Homo sapiens: one gene and its partner. The main gene of each other region encodes a partner of the protein of the gene in region 2 in a complex. Each region holds a gene or a part of one and is shown on either strand. Other genes may lie near its edges.

Evidence for each region. Proteins that work in one complex are often made in the same cells at the same time.
Region 1: the proteins of WAPL (region 2) and PDS5B are in contact, whole or in part, in a crystal structure (PDB 5HDT), measured with the Homo sapiens proteins. Residues at the interface, in NP_055860.1 of Homo sapiens: Lys7, Thr8, Tyr9, Ser10, Arg11; in NP_055847.1 of Homo sapiens: Gln47, Phe88, Ala92, Pro93, Ala95, Trp137, Val138, Lys139, Ser140, Asn142, Ile143, Phe145, Glu146, Glu187, Gly188, Asp189.

The regions. Positions count from the first base shown.
Region 1 is NC_000013.11:32,581,474-32,589,466, forward strand, and holds the start of PDS5B (sister chromatid cohesion protein PDS5 homolog B), read left to right. Parts: upstream 1-4,978; 5' UTR 4,979-5,120; intron 5,121-5,795; exon of another isoform or gene 5,796-5,935; intron 5,936-7,993. UniProt on the Homo sapiens protein: Regulator of sister chromatid cohesion in mitosis which may stabilize cohesin complex association with chromatin. May couple sister chromatid cohesion during mitosis to DNA replication.
Region 2 is NC_000010.11:86,497,773-86,504,795, reverse strand, and holds part of WAPL (wings apart-like protein homolog), read left to right. Parts: intron 1-4,052; coding exon 4,053-5,078; intron 5,079-7,023. UniProt on the Homo sapiens protein: Regulator of sister chromatid cohesion in mitosis which negatively regulates cohesin association with chromatin. Involved in both sister chromatid cohesion during interphase and sister-chromatid resolution during early stages of mitosis.

The DNA of each region.
Region 1 (7,993 bases), on a different chromosome or scaffold from region 2:
TATGCTTCCTACGTATCCATGAAGAGTAAGTATTAGGAGTCAATTTACTTGGAATAAGAGGTGATACAAACTTGGTTCCATATAGAGTGAGCTACTACCCTATGCTCAAAAACAGGCTGCTTGCCTAGAACAGAAACGTGAAACTGAAAAATTGTTTTGGAGTTTTTGGCCATCTTACACTGGAATGCTGATTTTTAAATTAAAAAAAAATTTTTTTTGAGACAGAATCTTGTTCTGTTGCCCAGGCTGGAGTGCCATGGTACGATCACTGCTTACTGGAACCTCTCCTCATCTCAAGTGATCCTCTCTCCTCAGCCTCCCGAGTAGCTGGAACTACAGGTGCATGCCACCATGCCCAGCTAACTATTTATTTTTTATAGAGGGAGGTCTTGCTATGTTGCCCAGGCTTGTCTCAAACTCCTGGGCTCAAGCTATCTGTCCACCTCAGCCTCCCAAAGTGCTGGGATTGCAGGAATGAGTCACCATGCCCGGCCTGTAGATTTTTCAAATAGCGCAAAAGTAAATAACATTGATTAGTGATTGCATGTGAATATATGTGAAACATATTATATTGAAGGAATTTATACGCCTTTGCACAAATATTCAAAGCAGCAGTCTAAATTCTCCTTTGTCATTCTCCTTACTTTTCAAGTGAAATTGCTCTTGGTTCTATATCTCTTTATTATTTCCAGAAGTTGAACTGATGATAAATGCTTTCTTAAACCCAAATCTCTCTTTGGATGATAATGCAAGCTACGATATTTTGTGTAAAAATTTCTGACATCTATCTTTGGAACTCTTTAAAAAAGTTAGATGTATCAAACATATTCCAATATAGTTTCTGAAGATCTAGTTTACAGAAATTTCCCAGATGATTTTGGTATTCTTCCACTCCACTCGAGTTAAGAACAGCTGCCCTGGGACTGTAGATGAATGTGGCATCCTTTCAGGAATATTTGCATTGTAAAGAGGATCACAGGATGGGCACAGTGCCTCATGCAGGGGATTAATTGTGGAGGGAGAAATTTGAGGCACCAGGGGCTGAGTCTTGGATGAGGGTGAAGGAAAAGAGCCCGTATACCATCTTTCAGCAGTAGTGATGTCATGAATGAAGGATCAACTTCAGGGGCTTGGAGTTTATCAAAATGCCTCACCAGTTTGCCTAATGCCTAAAATATCACAAAGCTAATTTCTGTTGGGCTTAGTTTCTCCTAATGGATATGAATGGGTTAGTGTTTTTTTTTTTTTTTTTTTTGAGATGGAGTCTCGCTCGGTTGTCTAGGCTGGAGTGCAGTGGTGCGATCTCCGCTCACTGCAACCTCCCCCTACCGGGTTCAAGCAATTCTCTGCCTCAGGCTCCCAAGTAGCTGGGATTACAGGCACCTGCCACCACACCTGGCTAATTTTTGTATTTTTAGTAGAGACGGGGTTTCGCCATCTTGGCCAGGCTGGTCCTGAACTCCTGACCTCGTGATCCACCTGCCTTGGCCTCCCAAAGTGCTGGATTACAGGCGTGAGCCACCGAGCCCTGCCTAACTTTTTCAAGTAACACAACCACATTCCAACATGTTTTCTGAGAATCCAATGCCTTAACCCAATAAATTAGTCTAGTGGGAATTTCAGCACTGTTGCAGGCTAACAGGGATCATATTTTTGTCTTGACTAGCCTTTGGGACATACCTTGAATTATGCTGAACCGGTAATGTTTGTCTAGGTAGGGCCCAGTCTTATCATTTACTAATTAGCTGCCCAGTGTGCTCTACTATGTATAATATGATAAACATTTCACCATATTTTGGAAACCATGCTGTAGTGCAGCAAGGCTGTACTCAAAATGCAGTAGGGGCCATAGGGGTATATTTAGGACTGTCCAGGTTAATTGTGTGCATTCCTGATGTCTTTCAACTTGCTAACCTCTTTAACCTCAAATTTGGACTCTATTAAAAAAAGCCCAGGTAACTCAAATATGAGTGATGTGGCAGACTGAATAATGGTCCCCTTACAATATCCATGTCGTAATCCCCAAACCTTTGAATATGTTATGTTACATGGCAAAGGGGAATAAAGGTCACTAATCAATGGACCTTAAATTAGAGATTATCCAAGTGGGCCCAATATAATCACAAGAGTATTAAAAGTGGATGAGGGAGTCAGAGGAAGAGCTGCGGTGACAAAAGCAGGTCAGAGAGACGCCATGGAGCTGGCTTTGCGGATGGAGGAAGGAGGATATGAACCAAGGGATCTGGGCAGCCTCTGGAAGAAGGAAATAGTAAGAAAAGGGATTCTCCTTTGGAGCCTCCAGAAAGACACACAGCCCTGACAACACCTTGATTTTAGCCCAGCGAGATACCTGTCAAACTTCTGCACTCCAGTAAGACAATAAGTTTGTGCTCTTTTAAGCCACCAACTTTGTGATGATTTGTTATAGTGACAAAGTAAAATTAGTAGAGGTGGGAACTACATTTGTGGTTATTCATAATCAAAGACAATTCTCCTAACCATTTCTGTATAAAACCAGCATTTGGACATAATTCCCACATAATTTCTCTTTCTTGGTGTAGAAAGCATTCACAACTGAGTTTTGAATGGTTCACACTCTTAAACTGTCTTAAACAATGTTGTGTTATGTTGCTCCTAATGAATTGCAACTTGGCTATTTTTAAAAATCCCAAACACAGAAGATTATTTTTGTTCAAATATCAACTTTAGATTTTAGTTTTCCCAAACAATATTGTTTTAAATGAAGGTTTATATTACTGATTTCTGTAAAGCCACTTGCAGTCATATAAAAGTATGCCCTTTTGTTAGAAACTATGCCTCATTAAAGCTTTAGGGTTTTTCCTCTGTCTGTCCTAATGGTAATTGCCCCATTGACCCTTACAATGTAGCTATTTTGAAGGCTATCTCCTTTCTGCCCACTCTTTTCTTGGGCTTAATCCTGTGGTGTTAGCAGCCTAACGTGGGCAATATGTATTCCGGGCCTCATTGAAATTCAAGGCATCATTTTATAAGAGAGAGGGTTAATGGTGAAACTGGCAAAACTGCTCACAAAGTTGACGTGACACCTTCAGCCCTTTCAGGACTCACTGCCATATACAAGATGTAGAGTGACATTCTTAAACAATTCATACATCCAACAAAATATTTACTGAGGCTTCCAGGTGTCAAATAATGGGGATAAGAGCACTGAATAATTTATACAAAAACTCTTAGCCGGGCATGGTGGCTCACGCCTGTAATCCTAGCACTTTGGGAGGCTGAGGCAGGCAGATCACGAGGTCAGGAGATCGAGACCATCCTGGCCAACATGGTGAAACTCTGTCTCTACTAAGAATTACAAAAAATTAGCTGAGAGTGGTGGTGTGTGCCTGTAGTCCCAGCTGCTTGGGAGGCTGAGGCAGGGGAATTGCGTGAACTCAAGAGGGAGGTTGCAGCGAGCCAAGATCGCGCCACTGCACTCCAGCTTGGCGACAGATCAAGACTCCATCTCAAAAAAAAAAAAAAAAAAAAGAAAGAAAAAAGAAAAAAAAATTCTTGCTTTCATCCTGGCTTTCTTCTGAAACTTTCTGGCTTCCTGGCTTTGGAGGTTTGGGAATTGAAGAAAATAAAGTAAAAAACATAATAAAAACAACCAAAGAGGAAAGGTTTTTCTAGATCTAGACATCCTACTCTCCCATACAAGATTTATGTTGATGGAACAACGATGTAAAATAAGAAAATTCCTGAGATAATTTTAAAAAGAGGGCAGAAAAAACTCATAGTAGACTTCATCGAGGAATGTATAAAATGGGTAGAACCTGGAGTATTCAGTGGCAAAATCTTGGACACAGGAATACAGTAACACAACATATTGGTCTAGCAAGCACTGGAGGAGACTGAGGCGGAATTGTCCAGCGAATCCCACAAAAATGGAAATGAAGAGGTCTCAGTATCTCTAGGTGCCCGGGTCCGATGGAATACCGATGTACATACCTTTTCTAACACAGTAGCATTAGTTTATATATCAGCATTACCTCTCTTTTGTTTCAGTTGATAAGTATCCTACTGTAATCCATTCATTCACACTTTGCTTGTTCATTGTTGAAACAAATTCTCCCTGGAACAAAATTCTAGTAACCAAATACATCATATCAGGGGAAACTTCCTTACAGCAGGGATGGTATTAAAGTAAAAAGAGGAGGAAGTCCCTTCTTCAGCTCTGGCAGGGACCCGGCTGGGGAGGAAACCTTCCCGCAAGGTAGGTGATCTGCTGTGGTGACCAGGCTAAACCCACTCTACAGCTGCAGGAGGGACTGGCATCCCTTAGAGGTGAAGAGGGGAGGAGACCCACCTCCTGGAATGTGTCCCTGTGGTCTCCAGATGATTTCTTCCTCTAATAAGGACAATTCTGCCAAAGGAATGGAATGCTTCGTCACAGGCTCAATTACTCTGTCTCCGCCAGCCTACCACCTATAAACAATTCCTCAAATTAGGAAAGCGGGGAGATTTAATAAAGACATAACACGTAAAGTGTAGGAAAACTATTTGTATGGCATTCCGAGACGACTAGGTCAGAGTTAACAAGTAAGGAGCAAAGTAGTTAATAATACCAATTCTGTTTACCCATCACAACACCTGTGCTGAATGTCAGGGTTTAAAAAAATCTCCCAACCTTTATCTAAAAAGATAGGGCTACGTAACAATCGGTGTGGTTTTTGTCGGTAGAGGTCTAGGAAGCCGCAAGAGTAGTGGACGCCTTGACAGCTGCCCTTCTCGCGGGCCCCGCGGCGGCGTGCCCGTGTGGTTGCGTGCGCGCGGACGGGGCGGGGCTGAGGAGGGACGTGCGCGCGCGCGGACGGGGCGGGGTGGAGCTCGGAGGGCGGACGCGCTCGGGGCCGTCTGGTCGGCAGGGGGCGCTGCGCACCCATGCCGCGCTCTGCCTGCCCCCGGGTGCTGTCCGCGGCGGTTCGATTGGAGCAGCCGCCGAAGAGCGCTTGGCGCCATTTTGAAGCGGAGAGGAGGAGGAACGGCAGGGCTGGCTGCGGAAGGGGAGGGGGGGGGAGAAGGCGATTGGATGCGGCGGCGGCGGCGGATCCCGGAGAGCCCCGGAGTGAGCGGAGTAGCGAGTCGGCAACCCGGAGGTAGGAAACAATTCAGTTAACGGAAAGAAAATGTCTCTCTTCTCTGGCTGCGGCGCTCCATTTTTCAGCGGCCGCCACTGCCGCTGTGTGCGTGTGTGTGGCAGGGCTGAAGCGCCGCCCGCCTGGGTGCCAGGCGCGACTCGCCTCCCGGCATCGGGGGCTGCAGCGGGTGGCTGCCTGGCGGTGGCCCGGGGCGGGGGTCGCGGGGCGCGGGCCGGCTGCGCGGTGGGGGTGGGGAGGGCCCCGCGGCCGGCGCGCGCCTCCACGCCGCGGGTTCTGCCGCAGCCTCTGGAAAATTAAACTTGCCGCTCTGATCCCGGCCGGGGCGGCGGCGGCGGCGGGCGGTGACCTTGCGCGCGGGCGGGGGTCTCGGGGCCGCCCGGCCGCCCGCGCCCTCCCGCCGCCGCCGTCGCCGCCGCCGCGCCCCTCCCCCCGCGCCCCGGCCGGCCGGCGGCTGTTTCCCGGGCGGCAGGCGGGCGGCGCGGTGCTCCTGTTGAATCCTCCCGCGGGCGGGCTTCTCCCCCTTCCGGGCGAGGGGCGGGCGGGGACCGCGGGTCGGGGCCGCGGGCGCTCTCGCCCCCGCCGCCGGGTCCCCGCGCGCCGCCTGGCCTCCGCTTCGGGCCAGGGGACGGGCTGAGCGTGACATTTTTGCACTGTCCCTCGCCGCTCGCCGGAGGGAAATCGCGCTCACCGCGCCACCCCGAGTGGTCCCCGAGCAGCCAGTTGAGGAAGAGCCCAGCACTGGCGTGGAGGGACTCCTCCCAGGCCACAACTGGGTTCTAGCTTTCCTTTCAGAAGGAACGGCGGGGAAAATGGTGTGCAATTGTGACTCGTTATTGTTTTTACACTGTTATTTTAATGTTACTTTAAAAGTTTTCGGTCCGGAGAAAAACCTTGTTTGTTGTTGTTGCTGCTACTGCTGTTGGTTTTTGGTAGAGACGTGAAAGCTAACTCTTAAGTAGCTCGACAGTTATTTTGGACGAATGACTGAAACCAGAAACGCCGCCCCTCGCCTTCGGAGCTGCAGGCTGCTGCGTTCCTTGCCGCGGACGGGGCGAGCTCCGGGAAGGGTTGGTAGAGCAGCTACCCACCCACTCCACGCGCGTCTTCAACAGCCTCTCTCCCCCAGCGAGGGTTAACCCTTTTTTATGTCGAAGAAAGTGCTTCTCGTACTTTTAATAAGAGGTGATGGATGGGCAGTGGTGCCCAGACTGATCCTACCCTGTTGATGAAATAGTTTCGAAAACTTTGGGTATAGCCTTAATTTAGAGGGTTGGTCTGCGGTGTGGAGAGAGTTGGGTAATCCTATACTATCTTCCTAATGAACTTCAAAAACTCAAGTTGTGTTTACATACAGGAGGCGAGCTGTAAATAAATCGTAATTACCCAATGCTTGAACGGCAGTATAGTCATTGTTCTCAGTTAACACATCCCGAGTTCCCAGACAGAACGTTTTTTATATTAACTCATGTAGTGGTCAGGTAAAGTAATTAAAAGCCACAAATATGGACTTGAAAGACAGCTCTTCATGCAGTACACATGTCTGAGATGTTCGCATCTTTAGGGACAATAAAATGAGTATTCAATGGTGTATGCAGGTCAGTTCGTGCAACAATTAATCTTGTATCTCATGGTGATAGCAGAAAACCTAATTAAAATTTGTAGTGCTGAATATGTAGGTGAAAATTACATGGGAACTTTTATGTGAAGATAGATTTAGTCTCAGAAACTTAACTGTAAAAACACATCTTAAGAACATTATTCCTTATAAATAAAATTTGTACTTAATATACATTTACAAATATGTCTAACAAGATGCACTTTAGACTTTATAAAAATTACCAAAATAGTGACTTTTTCCTCCTTTTTCTGATGGTTTTAAAAATTGTTCTCTTCTCAGCTGGCGTTTACTTAAAGGTATATTTTAAATGGGAAGGTAGTGTTTGTCTTGGCCTTTTTTCTTTTTTTCTTTTCTCCTTGTTTCGGTTAAGGCTGATTTTCCCTATATTAACTTTTCTTTTACAGCAGCTTTTGTTACTCTTGTAGGCTTTGTTCTCTCGTGTTATGTCTCTCCCCTCTCCCCATATTAGAGAGAGATGTGGTGATGATAGTGATTGTTGTTAGGAGATGTTTGTATTAAGCTTATTTGTAATAAGATTCTACCGAGTTGGCTGTTGGATGAAAGTTGTTTAAATTGTTCTGCAGCTTTGTTTAACGAAGTAACATTTTGAGCAGTAGGCTTTATCAATAATTTGTTAGGCCTAAGATAAAGTGATACTCTGTATTAGGCAGGGCTTGCCCTGGAGAGGGGTGCAATGGTAGAAAATACCCAAAACTTTGTGGGGAAGGAATATTTCGGGAAGCTGTATTCTTTCTGCTTTACCTCTTGGGAAATTTAGAGACTGCCTTAGAACTAACAGGAGTGCTCAGTATGATTTGGCATACGGACTCTTGAATGACATGGACTGTATATAACGTATATTGGAAAAGAATACATTTGTGTTTCCTCTGTTAGTGTTAAAGAGCAACAAGAAAACTTAAGGATGATCTCCAACTCACTTATACATGAGAAATTAGGTTCAGATTTTAATTTCATTGATTTATCTGAGGTCACAGTCATATTCATGTGGTGGAACTGGGGCAGCCCTTAAGATATCCTGGAAGCTTAGAAGTTTCCCCATTGTCTTTTTTTGTTCTATTCAGGATTTAGCAATATTTATTAATAAAAATTCAGGGTAGTACATTACCCTCCATCCCCTTCTCACCTTTTTATTCATTTAACCAAGAATAAAGTTTTGTGGTTAGCCGTCTGTTTCAGCGTCTGGTTTTTAATAATTTCTGTTTAGGATTCAGTCCATTTAGGTTGTCTCAGA
Region 2 (7,023 bases):
GGCTGGAGTGCGTGGCTACTCACACAGGTGTGATCATAACAGCAGCCTCAAATGAACCGCTGGCCACAGTGCCCTGGGTAGCTCTAGGTGGGACTATAAGCACGTACTGCTATGTCCCTGTTATTCCTTTTTCTTTTTTTTTTTGAGACTGAGTCTCGCTCTGTCGACGGGGCTCACTGCCACCTCTGCCTCCCAGGTTCAAGCGATTCTTCTGCCTCAGCCTCCCAAGTAGCTTGGACTACAGGTGTGTGCTACTACGCCCGGCTAATTTTTTGTATTTTTTAGTAGAGATGGGGTGTCACCGTGTTAGCTAGTCTGGTCTCGATCTCCTGACCTCGTGATCTGCCCACCTCTGCCTCCCAAAGTGCTGGGATTACAGGCGTGAGCCACCGCACCTGGCCTGATGGTTGCTTTGAGATAAAATAAATTAATAGAAAGTATTTAGAATACTACCAGGCACATACCGAGGGCTTATATAAATATAGTTCAGCTTTGTTTTACTTTGAGTTTTAATTGTGAGTGAAATTGAGTATCCTTCATAAGTTATTTAATTCATTATAGATATATATTTTAATGAATTGCTTCTTTGTGTTCTTGGCTTATTATTTATTCATTTATTTTTGAGGCAGAGTCTTGCTCTGTTGCCCAGGCTGGAGTGCAGTGGTGCTATCTCAGCTCACTACAACCTCTGCCTCCTGGGTTCAAACAATTCTTGTGCCTCAGCCTCCCAAGTAGCGAGGACGACTGGCATGTGCCACCACGCCTGGCTGGGTTTTTTTTGTCTTTTTAGTGGAGACAGGGTTTCACCATGTTGGCCACACTGGTCTCGAACTTCTGGCCTCAAGTGATCTGCCTGACTCGGCCTCCCAAAGAGCCGGCATTATAGGCCTGAGCCATTGTGCCTGGCCCCTAGCGCCATTTTCTACTGGGACATTGGACTTACTGATGTGTAAGGATTCTTGGTATATTAAGGAATTTACCTTTTGTGTTTCCCTAGCAACTAATGATAAGCATTTTTCATGTGTGTATTCTTTTTTTTTTTTGAGATGGAGTCTTGCTCTGTCACCCAGGCCGTGGTGCAGTGGTGTGATCTTGGCTCACTGCAAGCTCCGCCTTCCGGGTTCACGCCATTCTCCTGCCTCAGCCTCCCGGGTAGCTGGAACTACAGATGCCCGCCACCACGCCTGGCTCATTTTTTTGTATTTTTAGTAGAGACGGAGTTTCACTGTGTTAGCCAGGATGGTCTCAATCTCCTGACCTGATGACCCACCCGCTTCGGCCTCCCAAAGTGCTGGGATTACAGGCATGAGCCACCACACCCGGCGAAGTTTGTTTTCTTATCATGACAGCCATTCAGATATTTAAAGGCAGGTTTCATGTAATGGCAGTTTTCTTCCATCCCTGCACCAATTAAACCTTTCTAGTTGCCTCAACTGTATTTCATGGGTTATGGTCTCCAAGCCACTTTGTATCATTTGCACAGATTTCTTACAGGTTAAAGGCATTGTTTAAGTTTAGTCCTCAGCACACCGTGAGATAAACATTTGCTATTTCCACCTCAGCCTCCCAAAGTGCTGGGATTACAGGTGTGAGCCCCCGCGCCCAGCCAGTGAATTAGTTTTGTTGTTGTTGTTCTTTTAAACAGAGTCTCGCTCTTTTGCCCAGGTTGGAGTACAGTGACATGATCTTGGCTCACTGCAACCTCTGCCTCCCGGGTTCAAGCAGTTCTCCTGCCTCAGCCTCCTGAGTAGCTGGGACTACAGGCGCCCGCCACCACGCCTGGCTAATTTTTGTGTTTTTAGTAGAGACAGGGTTTCACCATGTTGGCCAGGCTGGCCTCGAACTCCTGACCTCATGATCCGCCCGCCTTGGCCTCCCAAACTGCTGGGATTACAGGCATGAGCCACCACGCCTGGCCTAGCATTTTAGTGTTTAGCAGCCACCACTAGACGTAGTGTAATATAGTTTGGTATGGGTCTTTTTTATGAAGTCTCTTTTGACTATTGATTTAATTGAGAACCTCTGCAGTCATTAGCCCCTCTGGGCCTTTTTTTCTCATCTGTGTAATGATGGGTTTGGTAAGAAATCAAAGGAAGTATCTTCATTTTCTTATAAGAGGGTAAAGGAAGTCTGTATATATTTGTGTGTATAGACTAGTATACAGTTACACAGATGTATACATTTGTGTGTTTATGTCTACAAAAATAATGTCTATTTGTATCTCCATCTCCATTAAACAGTTCAACTGTTTAATCTTCAACAAACAATTCATTGCCAGTCTTGTTTCATTTTTATCCTCACTAAAGTAAATTCAAGATGTTGTATTTGATTCATAAATATATTTTTTTAACAGATAAGGACTCCAAAAATATACAATTTTGGCATTTTTTATGTTTTGGCTTTTGAATAGACAACTTACATGCAGTATAAAATTCAAGAAGTATGAAAGTCTTTTCTTGTTCCTTATCCCTTAGTCATTCCATCTCTAAGAGCATCCATATCTGTACATAATGTAGAGCTGCCTCATTCTTTTTAACAACTGCATAGTATTCAGGTGTGTTGCTATATGGTAATTTAATTCTTTATTAATTGGTATATTGTTTATGAAAGCAAAAACCAGGAAACAGTGTTCTATTGAGTTTCTTGTTACTTATGTAATTTTGTGTTCGTGGAAAGTTATTTCTAAATACTTGTAAATGAAACTGCTGGCTTCAAGAGTAAGTCCTTTCTTTCACATGTACATTTTTAGTTTTAAAAGATATTACCAAATCTTAACCTGTTAAATTACATTAAAACCCTTTGGAGGCTGGACGTGGTGGCTCATGCCTGTGATTGTAGCACTTTGGGAGGCAGAGGCAGGACGTTTGCTTGAGCCCAGGAGTTCAAGACCAGCCTAGGCACCGTAGTGTGACCCTGTCTGTTAAATAAAAAGGGGAGTTAGGCAGGTGTGGTGGTGCACACCTGTAGTTCCAGCTGTTTGGGAGTGCTGCTCAGGAGGCTGAGGTGGGAGGATCACTTGAGGCCTGGAGGTCTCTGAAGCTGCAGTGAGCTGTGATCACACCACTGTATTCCAGTGTGGGTGACAGTGAGATCCTGTCTTGAGGGCAGGAAAACCTATTGGGTAGAATTAAAAATTATGCAGTGAATCTGTCCATGTAAAGCATCCCTCTCACCTGTATTTGATGATGCTAATTGAGATTTGTAAATAGCTTTTCTTAAATGTAGATGTATTTTGTAGAAGTAATTTTATTGTTTGGCATAGGGTATACATTTTGTCAGTGTTTTTCTACAAGTAAATGTTGAGGGAATTAATAATACCAGTTGGAATCATATTTGTATCTCATTTGGAAAGGTTGTAAAAATGTTCTGATAGTAAAAATTGAAGGCAACAAAAATGAATTCTCCACATACCAGATGAATAGGCAGGCTGAGGATTTATTACTGGCTGATATGCATAAATAGCCACTATTAGCCATTTAACTAACACACCAGAACTACTGCTAAAAATTCCCTTGAGATTATATGGCATTTAGGATTAGAAGAAAGAACAGAAATAGCTAGAGAAACCTGATCCTATGGACAGGTTTCTGGATAGAACTAGCATACCTTATGGGCAGCCCTATCCCAGATAAATAAAAACACTGGTAGAAGGTTTTTATTAACTGTTCAGTTGGTTTAGGTTTTACTAAATGATTTTTAATTTAAGCATCTTTATTTGAAAAGCCCATAATACCCCTAAGAAGGTTTGGCTGAGTCATTTACATGTCATTCTGAATGGATTCAGTTGCTTAACCCTGCTGAAATTTCTTGTGAGTTTACAATTTTAAGGGACTTGGTTGCCTGAGGAAAGGTCAGTAGAAGGCATGAGAGCTATACACTGAAAAGATAGGAGAGGAAATGTCTGATATGTAAATGTTAATTTCTTCACAACTTAAAATTATTTGCAGTTCTTCCAAGATTGATCATATACTATTGATTAACCACATATATGTTATTTATTAACTTTTATGTTGATACCACTCATGTTTTTATCCTTTGACTTATTTTTACAGATAAAGTGGAGAATTTTCATGAAGAACATGAAAAGAATAGTCACCATATTCACAAAAATGCTGATGACAGTACTAAGAAACCCAATGCAGAAACTACAGTGGCTTCTGAAATCAAGGAAACAAATGATACTTGGAACTCCCAGTTTGGGAAAAGGCCAGAATCACCATCAGAAATATCTCCAATCAAGGGATCTGTTAGAACTGGTTTGTTTGAATGGGATAATGATTTTGAAGATATCAGATCAGAAGACTGTATTTTAAGTTTGGATAGTGATCCCCTTTTGGAGATGAAGGATGACGATTTTAAAAATCGATTGGAAAATCTGAATGAAGCCATTGAGGAAGATATTGTACAAAGTGTTCTTAGGCCAACCAACTGTAGGACGTACTGTAGGGCCAATAAAACGAAATCCTCCCAAGGAGCATCAAATTTTGATAAGCTGATGGACGGCACCAGTCAGGCCTTAGCCAAAGCAAACAGTGAATCGAGTAAAGATGGCCTGAATCAGGCAAAGAAAGGGGGTGTAAGTTGTGGGACCAGTTTTAGAGGGACAGTTGGACGGACTAGAGATTACACTGTTTTACATCCATCTTGCTTGTCAGTTTGTAATGTTACCATACAGGATACTATGGAACGCAGCATGGATGAGTTCACTGCATCCACTCCTGCAGATTTGGGAGAAGCTGGTCGTCTCAGAAAAAAGGCAGATATTGCAACTTCTAAGACTACTACTAGATTTCGACCTAGTAATACTAAATCCAAAAAGGATGTTAAACTTGAATTTTTTGGTTTTGAAGATCATGAGACAGGAGGTGATGAAGGAGGTTCTGGAAGTTCTAATTACAAAATTAAGTATTTTGGCTTTGATGATCTCAGTGAAAGCGAAGATGATGAAGATGATGACTGTCAAGTAGAAAGAAAGACAAGCAAAAAAAGAACTAAAACAGCTCCATCACCCTCCTTGCAGCCTCCCCCAGAAAGCAATGATAATTCCCAGGACAGTCAGTCTGGTACTAACAATGCAGGTAAGAATTTAAAAAATATGTATAATAAGTACAATAGTTCCCCCTTACCTGCAGTTTCACTTTCTGTGGTTTCAATTACCCAAGGTCAACCATATTCTGAAAAGAGGTGAGTACAGTATAATAAGATAAAGATCCCATTCACATAACATTTATTATAGCGTATTGTTAAAATCATTGTTCTATTCTTAGTCATTGCTAATCTCTTACTGTGCTTGATTTATAAATTAAACTTTATCATAGGTATGTATACGAAAAAACATAGTATATACAGGTTTTGGTGTACTATTCCTGGTTTCAGGCATCCACTAGGAACTGGCATGTATTCCCTGTTGATGGCTGGGGGGGCTACTTTAAATGTGTTTTTCAGGCTTGAATCAACAGCTGCATAGTTTCTTCCTAGATACTCAAGTTTAGCTTGTTATATTTATTAAAAGTACCTGTTAGAACCGTAAATCACCTTATCTAAAGGTACAGCATTTCAAGTGTTAATGATCAGGTCCCAAGTTGTAAGGAACCAATTTGTAGATTGGAGAGTCTTCATATTTGAGTTTTAATTTAACCTTTAGCACTTGAGAATTTTAAAGCATATATGTGTATGGGGCAGGGACACCAAACATCGTGATGTTTCCACTTGACAAATGCAAATGCAGTGAAAACATAGATTAGATTTTGGGCCTTTGGAACTGTACTGATAACAGGTGGTTATAATGAGGGAAATACCAGAAGATTAGAATTTAAAAACTCTTTGTGGTTGGCTAAAAACTAATAAACATTCAAAACACTCTCAAACCCTCCTAAGTTGGTTTAATAAAATTGAAAAGTGCCAGGTAAGTATGCATTCCCTCTTAACTGTGGAAATTTAATTTGTGCCGAGATTGTAGACTCAGTAGTGACTAAGGGTCCTCAAGGAGTTCAGTCTCCACTGTGAGAGACAAACAAAAGAAATAGGTTAGCTCTGCCATAATTAAGTCATTACCTGACAAGGGCTTTGTGAAGTGGATTGACTATCTAGTGAGGAAGAATTTGTGAAAGCTTCTAGGATACATGGTTTCTTAACCAAATATAGTTTTTCTGGATTGGTTTACATATTAAATAAAGCTTTTTTCCTGGTAGGGCCACAGAAGTGTCATTATGGTAAATTAGAATTACAGTAGTATTTTGAAATACAAATTCTCTTGTAGAATATAAGTCATTCTTGAGATTACCTACCATTTTGCTTTATTTGGCCTGAAAATAGTTTTGCTTAATTTATTCTTCAAAACTAGACATACACAGGAGTACCCCTAGGGGCTCACCCCTGCCTCCCCCGAAAAAAAAGAAAAAAGAAATACATCCAGTGTTGTCTTTGAATCTTTTCTGGAGACTGGAAATTTGCAGCAGCCTTACTATAGTCACTTAAGATCTGGCTAGGCAGAACAGCTAGGCATTTGTTTCCTCAGTAGAATGATAAATACTGCTATACAATACCAGCGCCCTTGTCCTGCTGTAGTTTACTTATAAGCTTTTATTCTAACCTGGATAGCAAGTTATCCCCTGCAATTGAGAATCTGTGGCTGAAATTTACATCTTGTGTAATACAACTTTTAAAGATGTAAAATGTGAAATTAGACTCCCTTTGAGAAACTTGAAGTAGATGCTAAATAACATTTGAAAATTAGAGGCCATTTGGTTGATCTACCCAAAGTTGAAATTTGAGTCTTCATACCATAAGTGAAACAGCAAAAAATTTTAAGCATTGGGATAGAGAAGAGTCTTTCTATGTTTCCTATTTTGTTTCGCTTAGAAAAAGATACATATTTTTAACCAGTTGGGAAATAAACTGACTCTTTGGTTAGTTGTGTTTGAAGACCGACAAATCATTAAACTTTGTTATATTAGGTCATTTTAAATCTCTTGCCAAGGATAACTGTCCTCCTTTTCTGGTGTTTTAAATGTGGCTTTTGTA